2 separate regions of the Homo sapiens genome follow, and region 2 is linked to region 1. The links come from fine-mapping of genetic effects on plasma protein levels. Region 1 holds a variant in brackets. A gene starts in the other region. All regions are shown on their forward strands. Region 1 overlaps ZNF69 (zinc finger protein 69). Region 2 holds the start of APBB1IP (amyloid beta precursor protein binding family B member 1 interacting protein).

What was found. PIP is the posterior inclusion probability: the model's chance that the variant is causal. The UK Biobank Pharma Proteomics Project read protein levels with antibody pairs (Olink). The fine-mapping took linkage between variants from a reference panel, not from the people measured, so its PIPs are less certain.
Region 2: it holds the start of APBB1IP, and the variant in region 1 is fine-mapped to the plasma level of the APBB1IP protein (UK Biobank, PIP 0.99).

Annotation. Positions count from the first base shown.
Region 1 is chr19:11,899,342-11,907,679 of GRCh38, forward strand. ZNF69 (zinc finger protein 69) reads left to right here. Exons shown (of 4, transcript NM_001364730.1): 2 at 4,232-4,358; 3 at 4,564-4,624; 4 at 5,308-7,355. The coding sequence ends at 6,757. Among named protein-coding and RNA genes, the nearest start is that of ZNF69, 16 kb to the left of the region's middle. The variant C/G (reference allele first, on the strand shown) is at 4,199.
Region 2 is chr10:26,434,138-26,442,475 of GRCh38, forward strand. It overlaps APBB1IP (amyloid beta precursor protein binding family B member 1 interacting protein), which reads left to right and starts at 4,204. Exons shown (of 15, transcript NM_019043.4): 1 at 4,204-4,318; 2 at 4,515-4,716. RefSeq lists enhancers at 3,521-4,050, 3,768-3,897, 4,458-4,537.

The DNA.
Region 1 (8,338 bases):
GGGTCTCAAACTCCCCAGCTCAGGTGATCCTCCTGCCTGAGCTTCCCAAATGCCTGGATTCCACTTGTGAGCCACCATGTCCGGCCACTCATTTTCTTTCATTACTGAGTAACATTCCATTGTACAGATGTTACCATAGTTTGTTTCTTTATTCATCTACTGAAAGACTCATCTTGAGCCTGGTGTGATGCCTCATCCCTGAGTTCCCAGCACACGGGAGACTGAGGTGAGATTGCTTAAGGCCAGAAGTTAGAGAACAGCCTGGTAGATACAGTGTGAGAACTTATCTATTTTTTTTTTTAAAGACTCACCTTGTTTGATTCTAGTTTTTGGCAGTTATGAGTAAGGCTGCTAAAAACATTTGTGGGAGGACTTTTGTGTGGACATCAGTTTTCAGTTCATTTGAGTCAATATGTAGGAATGAGACTACTGAATCAGTAAGACCATGCTTATTTTCTTCAGAGCTCCACAGACTGTCTTCCAAATTGGCTGTAGAATTTTCCATTCACATCCCTAGTGAAGGAGAGTTCACTGTCTCCAGCATTTGGAAGTGTCAGTGTTTTGGATTTTAGCTACTCCACCAGGTATTTGCTGGTGCTTTATTTTTGTTTTCCTTTTTTTTTCCCTTTGGAGACGGAGTTTCGTTCTTGTTGCCCAGACTGGAGTACCATGGTGTGATTGAGCTCACTGCAGCCTCTGCCTCCCGGGTTTAAGCGATTCTCCTGACTCAGACTCCCAATTAACTGGGATTACAGGTGTACGCCGCCATGCATGGCTGCTGTTCGTATTATTAGTAGAGACAGGGTTTCACCATGTTGTCCAGGCTGGTCTCAAACTTTTGACCTCAGGTGATCCACCCGCCTCAGCTTCCCAAAGGGCTGGATTACAGGCATGAGCCACTGCACCCGGCCTGTTTTCATTTGCTCTTTAATAACATGTAATGTAGGGCATCCTGTCATATGTTTGTTTGCCATAATTACATTCTTTAGGGGGAGGTATACTTGGAAAGATTGGGCTTTTTTTTTTTTTGAGACTGAGTCTGGCTCTGTCACCCAGGCTGGAGGGCAGTGGCGTGATCTCGGCTCACTGCAACCTCTGTCTCCTGGGTTCCAGCGATTCTCCTGCCTCAGCCTCCTGAGTAACTGGGATTACAGGCTCACGCCACCAGGCCCAGCTAATTTTTGTATTTTTACTAGAGACGGGGTTTCACCATGTTAGTCAGGCTGGTCTCAAACTCCTGACTTCGGTGATCCACCCGTCTCTGCCTCCCAAAGTGCTGGGATTAAGGCATGAGCCACCGTAACCGGCCTTTTGCTTATTTTTTGATTGGTTGGTTTTTTTCTTACAGAATTTTAGGAGTTCTTTATACCTTTTGGGTACAAATCCTTGATCAGATAGGTGTCTTGCAAATATTTTGTCCCTGTCTGCTGCCTCTCTTTTTCTTCTTTTAACAAAGTCTTTTCCAAAACATTTTTGTTTTGAATGAAGTCCAATTTATCGATTTTCTCATTCACAGATCATGCTTTTTGTGTTGTGTGTGAAACCTTATTGCCAAATCCAAGGTCGTCTTGGTTTTCTCAGTGTTACGTTCTAGAAATTGTGAGTTTTGCATTTTCCATTTAAGTAAATGATTCATTAGGAAGTAGTTTTGTAAAAGGTGCAGTTCTGTGTCTAATTCATTTCTTTGCATTTGCTAATTCAGGTGTTTCAATACCATTTGTTTTGTGCCACCATGCCTAATTTTTTACTTTATTATGGAGACAGGGTCTCCTTATGTTGCCCAGGCTGGTCTTGAACTGAGGGGCTCAAATGATCTGTCTGCCTTGGCCTCTGGGTTTGCATTTTTAGTACATGTCTTTATAGTAGATGTTTCTATGTTCCTAGTGCCTCTCTTGTCATCTTATGGAATCTTCTCTTTTATATTTAATTTATTGAGCATTTTTAATCATCAGGAGATATTAACTTATTTATGCTGGAGGTTGCACTTTTTTGAATTGCCGACGTGTGAAAAATCAGACTTTGGCCATGACCTTAAGCAGTAGGATATAAACAATTCCCACATGCTTAGCGTTCCAAAAAGGGAACACTAGGCATAAATTGGTTAAGGCTTGTCAGATGCCTTTTCTGCCTCTATTAGGACATTCTTATGGTGTTTTGTTTGTTTTAAGAGTCTCACTCTGTTGCCCCGGCTGGAGTGCAGTGGCGTGATCTCGGCTCACTGCAACCTCTGCCTCCCAGGTTCAAATGATTCTCCCATGTCAGCCTTTCAAGTAACTGTGACTATAGGCATGTGCCACCATGCCTGGCTAATTTTTGTGTTTTTTTAGAGATGGATTTCCACCATGTTGGCCAGAGTGGTCTCAAACTGCCGACCTCAAGTGATCCGCCCACCTTAACCTCCCAAAGTGCTGGGATTACAGGCATGAGCCACCATGCCTGGCTGCTACCATGATTTGTTATCATTACTTATCTTAAAACAAAATGTGAAACTTATCAGCTTAAGAAATTTTACATGTACAGTTGAGATAGTTTGACAGATCTACATAAGTTCTCTAAGATGAATTCTATTGTATTTTGCTTTTTTCAATTATCCTGAGGTTTCATGCATGTTGTAGTATAGGCCAAGATGTTATTTTCTTTTTTTTTTTTTTTTTTTTGAATCGGAGTTTCACTCTTGTTGCCCAGGCTGAAGTGCAATGGTGCAATCTTGGCTCACCGCAACCTCCTGCCTCCCGGGTTCAAGCAATTCTCCTGCCTCAGCCTCCTGAGTAACTAGGTTTACAGGCATGTGCCGCCATGCCCGGGTAATTTTGTATTTTTAGTAGAGACGGCATTTCTCCATGCTGGTCAGGCTGATCTCAAACTCTGTCCCTCAGGTGATCTGCCCGCCTCAGTCTTCCAAAGTGCTGGGATTACAGGCGTCAGCCACCATGCCCGGCTAAGATGTCATTTTCTAAGAGTAAATAATATCCCATTTTATATATATGCTTACCACATTTTGTTTTTCCATTTAGCCATCAGTGGATATGTGGGTGGCTGCATTGCTCATTACTGCCACCTCAGGAAGGTGGTATAGTGGTTAAATCTGTGCTTATGACACCTGGGTATCTCTTAAGAGTTTCTTGTTTGCCCTCTTGAGTACATACAGTGCCAGGTATTTTTTAGGAATGTCCCCTTTGCCCTGTCAGCATCTATCTAGCTACATTCTGACAGGATAACTGCAAAATGAATGATTCCTGGGCATCATAATGGAAGTTTCTTTCTACCTAGGTTATTCCCCTCCTCTCTGCTTATATCTAGCATGCCTGATTTGGGTGGTCCCTGGGGGAGTGTGATTTCCCAGGGGCTCCCCCTCCTGCTCTTTGCTACCTACATGCTTCCTCTGACAATATCATCAAAGATTACACTTTGGGAACAGGCATTTTCAAGGATACACAGCCTCAGGACTGCTAATGTTAACTTTTTCTGCATATTAATTCATAGGACTCTGTCATGACAGATGCTACAGTCCAAAGACCCACAGTCCAAAGAGACATTAGGGACAGCCCAGGCAACTCACTTTTCTCCCTGGGTTCGGTAAATACATTTCCTATCCTGCTGTGGCTTTAGCCCTTGTTCAGTTCTAGCATCACAATTGCTTTATGAACTAGCCAGGTGTGGTGGCACATGCCTGTGGTCTCAACTACTCAGGAGGCTGAGGCATGAGAATTGCATGAACCCAGGAGTAAGAGGTTGTAGTGAGCCACGATGGTGCCACTACACTCCAGCCTGGGTAACAGAACGAGACGCTGTCTTAAAAAAAACAACTGCTGGCCAGGCCTGGTGGCTCACGCCTGTAATCCCAGCACTTTGGGAGGCTGAGGCAGGCGGATCACCTGAGGTCAGCAGCCTGACCAACATGGAGAAACCCCGTCTCCACTAAAAATACAACATTAACCAGGCATGGTGGCACATGCCTGTAATCTTAGCTACTCAGGCTGAGGAAGAAGAAGTGGTAGAACCCCGGCAGTGAGCCGAGATCACGCCATTGCACTCCAGCCTGGGCAATAAGAGTGAAAATCTGTCTCAAAAAAAAGAATTGCTTTATGGAAGAAAGTAAGTATACACAGGGAGAAAGAGATCTGATGACCCTTGGAGTCCACGGCATCCTGAGAACTTCTTGAGAATAGAGTCTAGGCCCCCAGTGCTGTCACTCTCA[C/G]CCATCCTCCTCTACACATGTGAGATGTTTCAGGACCCAGTGGCCTTTGATGATGTTGCTGTGAACTTCACCCAGGAGGAGTGGGCTTTGCTGGATATTTCCCAGAGGAAACTCTACAAGGAAGTGATGCTGGAAACTTTCAGGAACCTGACCTCTGTAGGTAAGGATGACATATTCCTTCCCTCAGTCCATTAGTGAACCAGTGTTTCTAGCTCATCAATGCTGTTGAGTGATTTAGAACATAGACAGGAAATACTTTGATGAATAAATGAGGTATGGCTGCAGTAAATCATGGGCATAGAATCTAATAATTTTTTCACAATTTTATACTGCCTCAGGACTATTTTTCTGTGTCTATATTTTAGGAAAAAGTTGGAAAGACCAGAACATTGAATATGAGTACCAAAACCCCAGGAGAAACTTCAGGTAATTTGTACTTACAAGACAAAGCAGTGTCTCTCTAGACAATCTTAGAATATGACAATATATTAAAAATAAGTAAAAGAACTAAGTCCAGGATCAAATACATTTATTTTTAGAATATTTGATCAAAAAACATATATATAAATGTGACCTAGGCTGTGGGCTCACTCCTGTAATCCCAATCCTTTGAGAAGTGGAGATAGGAGGATAGCTTGAGGCCAGCAGTTCAAGAACAGCCTGGGCAACATAACGAGACCACATATCAACAACAGCAAAAAATTAGCTGGGCATTGTGGTCTGTAGTCCCAGCTACTCAGGAGGCTGAGGCAGGAGGATCACTTGAGCCAGTAAAGGCTGCAGTAAGCTATGATGATATCACTGCACTCCAGTGTGGGCAACAGGACGAGACCCCTAAATAAAAGAAAAATGACACAGAGTATTTAGTATTTGTAAAATAGTTTACATGGGAAGAGTATTAAGAAGCCCCATATAAACAGTTTTTTAAATAATAGTTATGGCTGGGTCACCTTGTACAATGGGTTGTCCAGTCACCTTCAAACAATTCAGACAGGGCAGAAAGCCTACACTTTGATGGACAGTGTTAAAAATGCAAGTTCAGTACTTGTTGATTAATATAAAATTACTTATAAACAAACCCTTTGTAATGTGCTTCTCATTTTTGACAGGAGTCTCATAGAAAAGAAAGTCAATGAAATTAAAGATGACAGTCATTGTGGAGAAACTTTTACCCAGGTTCCAGATGACAGGCTGAACTTCCAGGAGAAGAAAGCTTCTCCTGAAATAAAATCATGTGACAGCTTTGTGTGTGGAGAAGTTGGCCTAGGTAACTCATCTTTTAATATGAACATCAGAGGTGACATTGGACACAAGGCCTATGAGTATCAGGAATATGGACCGAAGCCATGTAAGTGTCAACAACCTAAAAAAGCCTTCAGATATCACCCCTCCTTTAGAACACCACAAAGGGATCACACTGGAGAGAAACCCTATGCTTGTAAAGAATGTGGAAAAACTTTTATTTCCCATTCAAGCATTCAAAGACACGTGGTAATGCACAGTGGGGATGGACCTTATAAATGTAAATTTTGTGGGAAAGCCTTCCATTGTCTCAGTTTATATCTTATCCATGAAAGAATTCACACTGGAGAGAAACCATATGAATGTAAACAATGTGGTAAATCCTTTAGTTATTCTGCTACCCTTCGAATACACGAAAGAACTCACACTGGAGAAAAGCCTTATGAATGTCAGCAATGTGGGAAAGCATTTCATAGTCCCAGATGCTATCGTAGACATGAAAGGATTCACACGGGAGAGAAGGCTTATCAATGTAAGGAATGTGGAAAAGCATTCACGTGTCCCCAGTATGTTCGTATACATGAAAGGACCCACTCTAGGAAAAAACCCTATGAATGTACGCAGTGTGGGAAAGCATTATCCTCTCTTACAAGTTTTCAAACACACATAAGAATGCACTCTGGAGAAAGACCTTATGAATGTAAGATATGTGGGAAAGGCTTTTGTTCTGCCAATTCATTTCAAAGACATGAAAAAACTCACAGTGGAGAGAAACCCTATAAATGCAAGCAATGTGGTAAAGCCTTCATTCATTCCAGTTCCCTTCGTTATCATGAAAGGATTCACACTGGAGAGAAACCCTATGAGTGTAAGCAATGTGGGAAGGCCTTCAGATCTTCCTCACACCTTCAATTGCATGGTAGGACTCACACTGGAGAGAAGCCCTATGAATGTCAGGAATGTGGGAAAGCCTTCAGATCTATGAAGAACCTTCAAAGTCATGAAAGGACACAAACACACGTAAGAATACACTCTGGAGAAAGACCTTATAAATGTAAGCTATGTGGGAAAGGCTTTTATTGTCCCAAATCATTGCAAAGACATGAAAAAACTCACACTGGAGAGAAACTCTATGAATGCAAGCAATGTGGTGAAGCCTTCAGTAGTTCCAGTTCCTTTCGATACCATGAAAGGACTCACACTGGAGAGAAACCCTATAAATGCAAGCAATGTGGGAAAGCCTTCAGAGCTGCCTCAGTCCTTCGAATGCATGGTAGGACTCACCCTGAAGATAAACCCTATGAGTGTAAGCAATGAGGGAAAGCCTTCAGATCTGCCTCACACCTTTGAATGCATGGTAGGACACACAATCAAGAGAAACCATGAATGTAAAGAATGTGGGAAACCCTTCAGGTCTGCCCAGAACCTTCGAATTCAGTAAAGGACACAAGCACACATAAGAATGCATTCTGGATAGCTGAACAAAAGGCAGCAGAAACTTCTGCAGACTTAAATGTCCCTGTCTGACAGCTTTGAAGAGAGTAGCAGTCCTCCCAGCATGGAGTTTGAGATCTAAGAATGGACAGTCTGCCTCCTCAAGTGGGTCCCTGATCTCCAAGTAGCCTAACTGGGAGGCACTTCCCAGTAGGGGCCAACTGACACCTCATACGGCCGTGTGCCCCTCTGTGACGAAGCTTCCAGAGGAAGGATCAGGCAACAACATTTGCCGTTCTGCAATATTTGCTGTTCTGCAGCCCCTGCTGGTGATACCCAGGCAAACAGGGTCTGGAGTGGACCTCAAGCAAAATCCAACAGACCTCAGCTGAGGGTCCTGACTGTTAGAAGGAAAACTAACAAACAGAAAGGACAACCACACCAAAACCCATCTGTACATCACCATCATCAAAGACCAAAAGTAGATAAAACCACAAAGATGGGGAGAAACCAGAGCAGAAAAGCTGAAAATTCTAAACATCAGAGCGCCTCTTCTCCTCCAAAGGAACGCAGCTCCTCGCCAGCAATGGAACAAAGCTGGACTTTGACTTTGACGAGCTGAGAGAAGAAGGCTTCAGATGATCGGTAATAACAAACTTCTCCAAGCTAAAGGAGGATGTTCGAACCCATCACAAAGAAGCTAAAAACCTTGAAAAAAGATTAGACAAAATGGCTAACTAGAATAAACAGTGTAGAGAAGACCTTAAATGACCCGATGGAGCTGAAAACCATGGCACGAGAACTATGTGATGCATGCACAAGCTTCAGTAGCTGATTCAATCAAGTGGAAGAAAAGGTATCAGTAATTGAAGATCAAATGGATGAAATGAAGTGAGAAGAGAAGTTTAGAGAAAAAAGAGTAAAAAGAAATGAAAAAGCCTCCAAGAAATATGGGACTATGTGAAAAGACCAAATCTATGTCTGATTGGTGTACCTGAAAGTGACAGGGATGGAACCAAGTTGGGAAACACTCTTCAGGATATTATTCAGGAGAACTTCCCCAACCTAGCAAGGCAGACCAACATTCAAATTCAGGAAATACAGAGAACGCCACAAAGATACTCCTCGAGAGGAGCAACTCCAAGACACATAATTGTCAGATTCACCAAAGTTGAAATGAAGGAAAAAATGTTAAGGGCAGCCAGAGAGAAAGGTCGGGTTACCCACAAAGGGAAGCCCGTCAGACTAACAGCGGATCTCTTGGCAGAAACTCTACAAGCCAGAAAAGAGTGGGGGCCAATATTCAACATTCTTAAAGGAAAGAATTTTCAACCCAGAATTTCATATCCAGCCATACTAAGCTTCATAAGTGAAGGAGAAATAAAATCCTTTACAGATTCAAATGCTGAGAGATTTTGTCACCACCAGGCCTGCTGTAAAAGATCTCCTGAAGGAAGCACTAAA
Region 2 (8,338 bases), not on the chromosome of region 1:
TGAAGCAGCAGGATCCCTTGAGCCCTGGAGTTTGAGGTTACAAGGAGCTATGATCTCACCACTGCACTCTAGTCCAGGAACAGAGTGAGACTCTGAAAATAAATAAAAAATAAATACATAGAAAATATATTTTCTTTTATGATTTTGTTAATAACAGTTTCTCTAGCTTACTTTATTGTAAAAATACAGTATTTAATACATATAACATAATATGTGTTAATCGACTGTGTTATCAGTAAGTCTTCTGGGCAACAGTAGACAATTAGTAGTCAAGTTTTGTGGGAGTCAAAAGTTATACATGGATTTTCAACTGTGCAGCATTTTGGTACCCCTAAAACCTGGCATTGTTCTGTTACAGTAGGTAGCTAGTCAGGCATGAGCAGGGCAGGAGAGGGCTCCCCTCACCCCCTACCAGGAATGTCAGGCGACTATCAGGTGGTGGTCAGGGGACTGTTAACCGTGTCTCTAAAATAATAATTGATCACAGCCAGCACCAGGGAAAGGCAGTCTCCCAATAGATAGAAACACCTGAAACTGGTGATCAACAGCTTCCAGATAAGATCTCAGGAGTTGGGCGAGTGGGCTCAAGCATGTGCACTAAGAGGTAAAATGGTGGAGTTTAACTGGCAAATGACCTTCCAGGGACATTTGGTAAGGGAAGAATGCCTAAAGTGAACACGCGTACAACTTCAGTAAACACACTGCGCATGCTCACCTCCCAAGTGCTGGCACGCCACTGCTCATGTGGACAGCCCACTCCATGGGAAGAATCAGGAGGAGGAAGACAAGACCCCGAAGTATGTCAATGCGTAAAGCCCCAAGTCAAAAGTCAAACAGCGCACTTCTCTCAAGTCACCCGCTTGGCCCTCTTCCAAGTATAATTTACTTTCTTTTGTTACTGCCCTACAGTTTTCTAATAAACTTTCGCTCCTGCTCTAAAGCTTGCCTTAGTCTCTTCTTCTGCCTTATGCCCCTCAGTTGAATTCTTTCTTCTGAGGAGGCAAGAATTTAGGTCGCTACAGACCCATATGGTTTTGCCAAAGCTAACATATTTTGGTGCCGTGTCTCAGATATATTCTGCTGCTGGCAGTTCAAAGGCCAATTGTATTTTCTTTCCCAACTTAGCTCAGAAGTCTTCCTGCATCTATTCTTTTCTTCATCTGATCCGTTCCCCAAATTATGCCAGAGTGATTTTCCTAAAGCATAAATCCCATCATTTGCCAGCTTAAAATATTATTTAATATATTCTCATTGCTCTTAGGATGAGAAAATAATTCTTGACATAGTCCACATGACCCTACATGGTTTGCCCCTACTGACCTTACCTCTAACCAGACCTTCCATAACTCCAATCATACTGGTTTCCATTCAGTTTCTAATCCCTCTGCCACTCCCTTACTCCCATCCCATTTCCCAGCCCACCCATCAGCAAATGCTATTGGTTCTACTTTGCTAGGTGGTTGTTTGTTTGTTTGTTTAAATAGTCTTGCTCTGTTGCCCAGGCTGGAGTACAGTGGCATCATCATAGCTCACTGCAGATTTGAACTCCTGGGCTCAAGCAATCCTCCTGCCTCAGTCTCCCAAGCAACTGGAACCATAGGCATAAGCCACCATACCCAGCTAATTTTTTCCCCCATTTTTGTAGAGATAGGGTCTTGCTATGTTGTCCAGGCTAGTTTTGAACTCATGGCCTCAAGTGATCCTACCACCTTGGCCTCCTAAAGCACTGATATTACAGGCATGAGCAACTGTGCCAAGCTTTGGTTTTATTTTGAAAACTGTATCTTGATTCCAAACTCTTCTCACCATATCTACTGTTAGAATACTAATAAAGCTACTATCATTTTTCATCTGGACTCTGACCATAGTCTACTGAGGAATCTCTCTTCTCTTGCTTCAATCAATTGATTTTCTGAACAATCACCAACTGGCAGGATGGCTTATCGCTTAAGTCAAATCATGCACTCAGTTGCTAAATACATTCCAATAGTCCCCCATTGCAATTAGAATAAAACCTAAAGTCCTCAATGCTGGCTACAAGGTCCTGCTTGTTCTGGTTCCTGCTTACCTCTCTGTCCCCATCCACTATTGCTGCCCTACTCTTTCAGAACATTCCAGGCACACTGGCCTGCCTTCTTTTGAACTTTCTATGTTCCTATCTCAGCCCCTCTTCTTGTTCTTCCTTCTCTTGGAATCCTTTCCCAAGTTTCTGAATGGCTGCCCCTTCTCATTACTTTGTAAAGAGGTGATCCTTGACCACTTTCCCTGCCCCAAGAAAGTCACTCTCATTGTTTGATTTTATATTTTATGTAGCACTTACAACTCTGCTCAGAACCTTCCACTGGCTTTCCATCTCACTCACATCAAATTCTCTTCCACAGCTCCCAAATAGCACACAATCTGGGCACCATTTCCTTTTGATCCCATCTCATGTCTGTCCCTCCCATCTCACTCTGCTCAGCCGTACTAATTTCCTTGGTGTTTTTCCAATATCTTAAGTGCTCTCCTAACTCAGGGTCTTTGAATGTGCTGTTCCTTTTGCCTGGAATATTCCCATCTAAAAACCCAGTGTGGATTAATCTCTCATGCCATTTAGATCTAGCTCAAGTGTCACTTATCAGACAGAAATACCAGTTTCAGGTGTTTCTGTCTATTGGGAGACTGCCTTTCCCTGGTGCTATATTAAAAAAAATTAGGATAAATAAATAATAAATAAATAAATGAAAAATACATTTTCTCTTCCTTATGATTTTATTAATAACAGTTTCTTTTCTCTGGCTTACTTTATTATAAAAATACAGTATTTAATATATATAAAATAATATGAGTTAATCGACTATGTTATCAGTAAGGCTGATAACAACTGCTTGATCATCACCTGATGGTCACCTGACATTCCTGGTAGGGGGTGGGAGGAGCCCTCTCCTGCCCTGCTCATGCCTGACTAGCTACCTACTGTAACAGAACAATGCCAGATTTCAGGAGTACCAAACTGCTGCACAATTGAAAATCCATGTATGTCTTTTGACTCCCCCAAAACTTAACCACGAATAGCCTACTGTTGACCAGAAGCCTTACTGATAATATTAAACAGTCAATTAACACATATTATGTTATATGTATTTAGATAAATACTGTATTTTTACAATAAAGAAAGCTAGAGAAAAGAAACTGTTATTAAGAAAATCATGAGGAGAAAATATATTTTCTATTTATTTATCGTTTATTTACCCTAATTAATACAGCAACCCCATCCCCATGCCCATCACTCTCTATCCCTCACCTTTTAACTTCCTTCAAAACTAGTTACATTCCTTGACATGTTAAATATTAATTTGTTTATTGTCTGCTTTCTACCAACTAGAATGCACCATGCATGAGAGCAGAAATTGTTTCCTCTAACTATTTTCATTGTTCTTAGAAGTGTTGGTGCTTACGAATAGTTTCTCATTAAATAAATGACAGAACTATTTGAAATTGCCTAATTAACACATGCACCTAATTTCTGTCTTTATGTCTTCACCACCTTCCCTGACATATAAGCCTTTGAAGACACAGCTGTAGAGGAGAAGGGGAGGGTTATTCAACCGCATTTACAAATCATAACTGATTTTAACTTCTGTATTTTCAGACCTCCCCAGCGACTTTCTCTCAGGAAACTCCACTCCCAACTGACAGGTGCTATTTCCAGCCAGTCCTATGCTGTTGCAAATAGTGAGTCCATGAATGCCCTCTGCCGTGTGCATTACTTATTTTCATCAGCAGATCTTCGTAACACACTCCTGGAAGTGGGATGACGGGGTCAAAAGGCGAATCCATACATAAGTTAAATAGATATTGCTCAATTCTCTTCCACGGGGTTCAGACCATTTTGGATTTCTACGAGCAATGAAGACAGTGCTATTCCTCTACACCCTGGCCGGCCAACTGAGCGTGGTTAAACGTGGGGAGGGAGGAGGGTGAGGTTACCAACCTGATGGTTGAGAAAGGGCCTCCGCCCAGCGCGCCCTTCCTCCACCCCCACCCGAGAGACAGCTGAACTCCGGCCGGGACGCGCGTGTTGCCAGTCCAGCCCTGCACCGCGTCCCCTGAGGGCGGGCTGCAGGCGGCCGGGAAGCCTTGCACAACCGGCCCAAAAGAGGAAGCCCAGAAAGTGCTGAAGTAAACACTTTGGGAGACCGTTGCAACATAAAGCGGCCTCTCAGTCTTTGGTGGAACCATCACTAGGCCCCAATCCCTTAGTCCCTCTTGCGTCGAGGCTGCAAAATGGTTCCATTCGCCAGGAGACGCTCCTGAGAGAAGGGCGCGCGCGGCACAGGTAGGGGGAGGCGCAACGTTTCCCAGAATTAAAATAAAATAAAATAAAATAAAATAAAAATCCCTTCAAGGTGGTTGTGTAGTAGGGGTGGGATGGGGGAGAGAAAATCAGGCGCAGACTCGATGAGTTGGAGAAAGCAGCCCCTAACTCGGAGTCCTTTACGCATATGTTTGTCTGTCCCACTGTCTCTAACCAGGGGCCTTCCTTGCACCTCGGAGCAAAGCAGCTCGGATAGCGCCACACGTCTGCGCGCTGCGTGGGAAGGGCAGGGCTGACAGCACTTCCTCCCCGGGGCAGCGACCTGGAGCCCGGGTGCGGCAGTCTGCACCGCGCGTCGCTTTCCCGGCCGGAGTCTCGCCGCCTTCCCGCGCCCCGCAGCGCCCCGCAGAGCAGTCGAGGTAAGTGGCGCTCCCAGTCCCGGGAGCCCTGGGAGCGCCAGCACGGGCCCCTCGGGGCTGTCAGGAACCCGTTTGTCAAGCCCGTCGGGTCCGACGCCGGGGGCAGCTCCAGGATCTGGCCTCGTGAACGCGTGCCCCCAGGCGTGGCCCTCGAGCGCAGCGGGTCCCCAGGGTCCCCTCCGCTGATCTCCACTCTGGACCCGGCTCGCGAGGGTGGGGGTGTGAGGGTTTGGGGTTCGGGTTTGCTTTTTCCCGAGCTATTGCAACAGATTTGACAGATTTCCTGCCCAGGAAATTGCTGCAAGGTCAAACGGGGAACTGCTATGAACCCTTGCACGTCCAGCAGGTCAGCAGGTCAGCAGGTCAGCAGGTCCGGGAGCCCCAGTCTCCCGGAACCTGGAGGGATTCTTGAGGGGCCAAGATTAGATGTGGATTAAATGCCAGCCGTGTGAGAATTTGAGTGTGGCTCGCAGTCTGATGCATCTTAGAGTGTTTCCTTCCTCTAAAACTTTTGGACAACTCTTTCCTCTTTTTAAAAATAACTTTTTCCCCCGAATATTCTCATTTTCATTTTAAAATACCATAAAGATAGATTTGGACACCAGGCACAAGTTTCATAATTTGGCTTGAAATGAATATCCAGAGGGCCTTTTACAGAATGGAGGAAACTAACTAGGGTGTCCTAATGTCTCCAAGAACCTCTGCGCAGGTGTTCCACCAAAGACCTAGCCCGGTGTACCTCTTACTTTCCTGCTAAGGTATTTCTTAGTTCATACCCCTGTGGAACGTGAAATGTGTTTCCTAGACACTCAGGGCATAGCGGTTCAAAAGAACTTTTAATGTGATCCTTGACGAGACGGAGTACTAGAGGAAAGTAACAAAAGAAAAGGGCCCGTGAGTTTATTATGCCCCCAGATGTTTTTTTCTGGTGGCATAACGTGGTTTAAACAAAGGTGCCGGTACTAGCTACTATTCATTTTAAAATCTGGGTCTCCAGAGAGAAATTTCAGAAAGGAAAACTTTGTCCTTTTTCATAAACCTAGAGCAGCGATTTTCCCTCTGGCCTCACTGGAATAATGGGTGGCACATGGGCCAGGACGATGATGCTGGCTGGCGAAATTAGCAAGGATCTGCTGAGAAATACTTTATAAAGTCTTCTAGTGGTATTTCCTGTCTGCTCAACGTGTGTTGTGAAAGGTCTAAGAAATTTAACTTCATCCTTAAACTATTAATAATGTGTGTCCTTAAACTATTAATCCTTAAACTATTAATAATTACTAATATTTGGGTTTTTTCTCAGCACTTGGGAGACCTGGGTTCTGGCTCTTATATCTCCCCCATCTAGATAAGGATGATATTGATTAACTTGCATAACTTCTCCCTGGACTTCAGATAACGTCAGTAAAGTGAGATGATTGGGCTACATTATGTCTGTTCTTAAAATAGCAATTGAGGAGTTGCTATAATTCTTTGAATTGGTCCCAACTGGAATACTGGCAACATTATATCAACATTAGAATTGCTGATCACAAATTTTTTAAAAATGGAGAAAATAATCATAACCATAACAGATTACATTCTGAAATATCAATATCTTTGAGGTCTTTTGTTTCTGAGAAGTTCCTGTAAAAGCGCAGTCAATATCTGGCCTATATGTAAAAAGGCAAATTTCCATCTTATTTGAAAACTGAGATAAGAAACAGCCCAAACTTGAACAGGTCAATATTATATTTTGAAATCTTTAAATTGCTATTTCTCAAGAAATATAACTTTGTAATATGAATTACTTTATGGCATTACTTTAAATCTTAAACACAATACTAGGTTTTATAGTATTTATTACATTTTTTGTATTTTTATATCCTAAGAATGTTCACCAGTTATCCACTATTGATTTGCCTTTTTTCACTCATCAATCAAAGTTTTAAATAGTTCCATATTATTATTAGAATGAGCTACTTATAAAGTTCATTGCCATAAATGTCTGTTTGATATGTCACTTTGAATTTTCTTTAAGCCATCTTACTTCCAAAGAGCATTATTATTTTCATTTTCTTCTAATTCTCTTCAATTTTATTTTAATTATTTTTATGCCTAAAACATTTTAGTGAGTCCACAAATCTTATAATAAATTGTCTGCGTTCCATAGCCTATTGGACCACAATCTTTACAATTTTATAGGACCCCATGAGTTTATATTATGGAGACTACGGTGATCTTAGGAATGCTTGCCTCAAAACAGAACAATTTTTATTAACACAACAGGTATCTTCTCAGTATGAAAATGAATGTGTGTGTTTTATGTCACTGCTGTCATCTAAGAGGCAAGTCACTTAAAGCTTAAGCATTTATTATAAATTCATGTACATAATAAATGCCAGATTTTAAAGTGTAAGATTTCTACACTGGTTGCATGGGGATTTTAAAATACATATTACACTTTTAATTATCGTGAGAAACATGACTTTTAGAGAAAACTGCTAGATATCTGGAACAGTAATCATTAGATTTCTCTTGAAAAGAGAGAACTAGCCGCATGAAGGAATGCCATTACACCTATACCCAGTTAAAGAGACTAGATTGTACCTGCAGCTTGGAAGGGCAGACCCTGAGGACAGCTTTTGGGGGACTAGAGGATGTGACCTGCCACCACTGCATCATCATTTCCTAGCCAATTTGTGATCCCAAAATGAGGACTCCAAAGAGGCTGGCTAAATGTGCAGAATATATTAATCTCACTGAGTGGTACCATGGAAATATCACAAGCCCCTGAGATCCCGTTGGCTCCACTGGTCCCAAACCTCAGGCATGAGCAAGCAGAGAGGTGACACCACTCCAAGGCATCACACGTTCTCATTATTCCACATATTCTGGAGCTTGATTCCGTGACTCAGTTTTAAAACATTTCCTGAGCGTTGACCATGAACTTGAATAATTAAGAATCATAAGAGCTATTTTCTTTCTTCTCTGTCAACTCAGTTTTCTCTTTGATCATCACATAGTAATAGCAAATAATAATTATTATAATGTTTACTTATAAATACTACCAGGCCCTGTACTAATTTAGATGTGTCATCTTGTTAATCATCACATCAAGATGAAAGCACAGAGAGGGTAAGAAACTTACGCAGGAAGTAAGAAACAGAGCTGTTGTTTGAACTGGGCCATCTGATGGTGGCACCCATGAAAAAACCTGGGGCCTTTCCACAATGAGTTTATAGTCTAGAAGAGGAGATGTAACTAGATGTAAGAGGAGATGTAGAATTCCATGCGGAACCAGAGTTGAGTGCTGTGGGACTACATATCAGGGTCCCTGGTCTCCCCAACCAGGGTCACGGGAGAAGGTTGAATAGAAGGAAACCAAGCAAAGAACTTATCGTGTTATCATGGGAAGACAAGTTAATATAATCAACTTTGAAGTTATTATCTTTACGTGTGCCTTGAAAAAAGAATCTGCTTTGTTAGCAATCGTGTGTTTTCATTTTTGTGTTTATTTTATTCTAATCCCACATGACAGCCGGCTAGGTTGATTAAATCAACAAGCAAGCAGTGAGTTTAATATTTTTTCTAATTCTGTTGGGGATCTTTTTGATTTAGTTTCATGTTACAGACTCATCAGTGA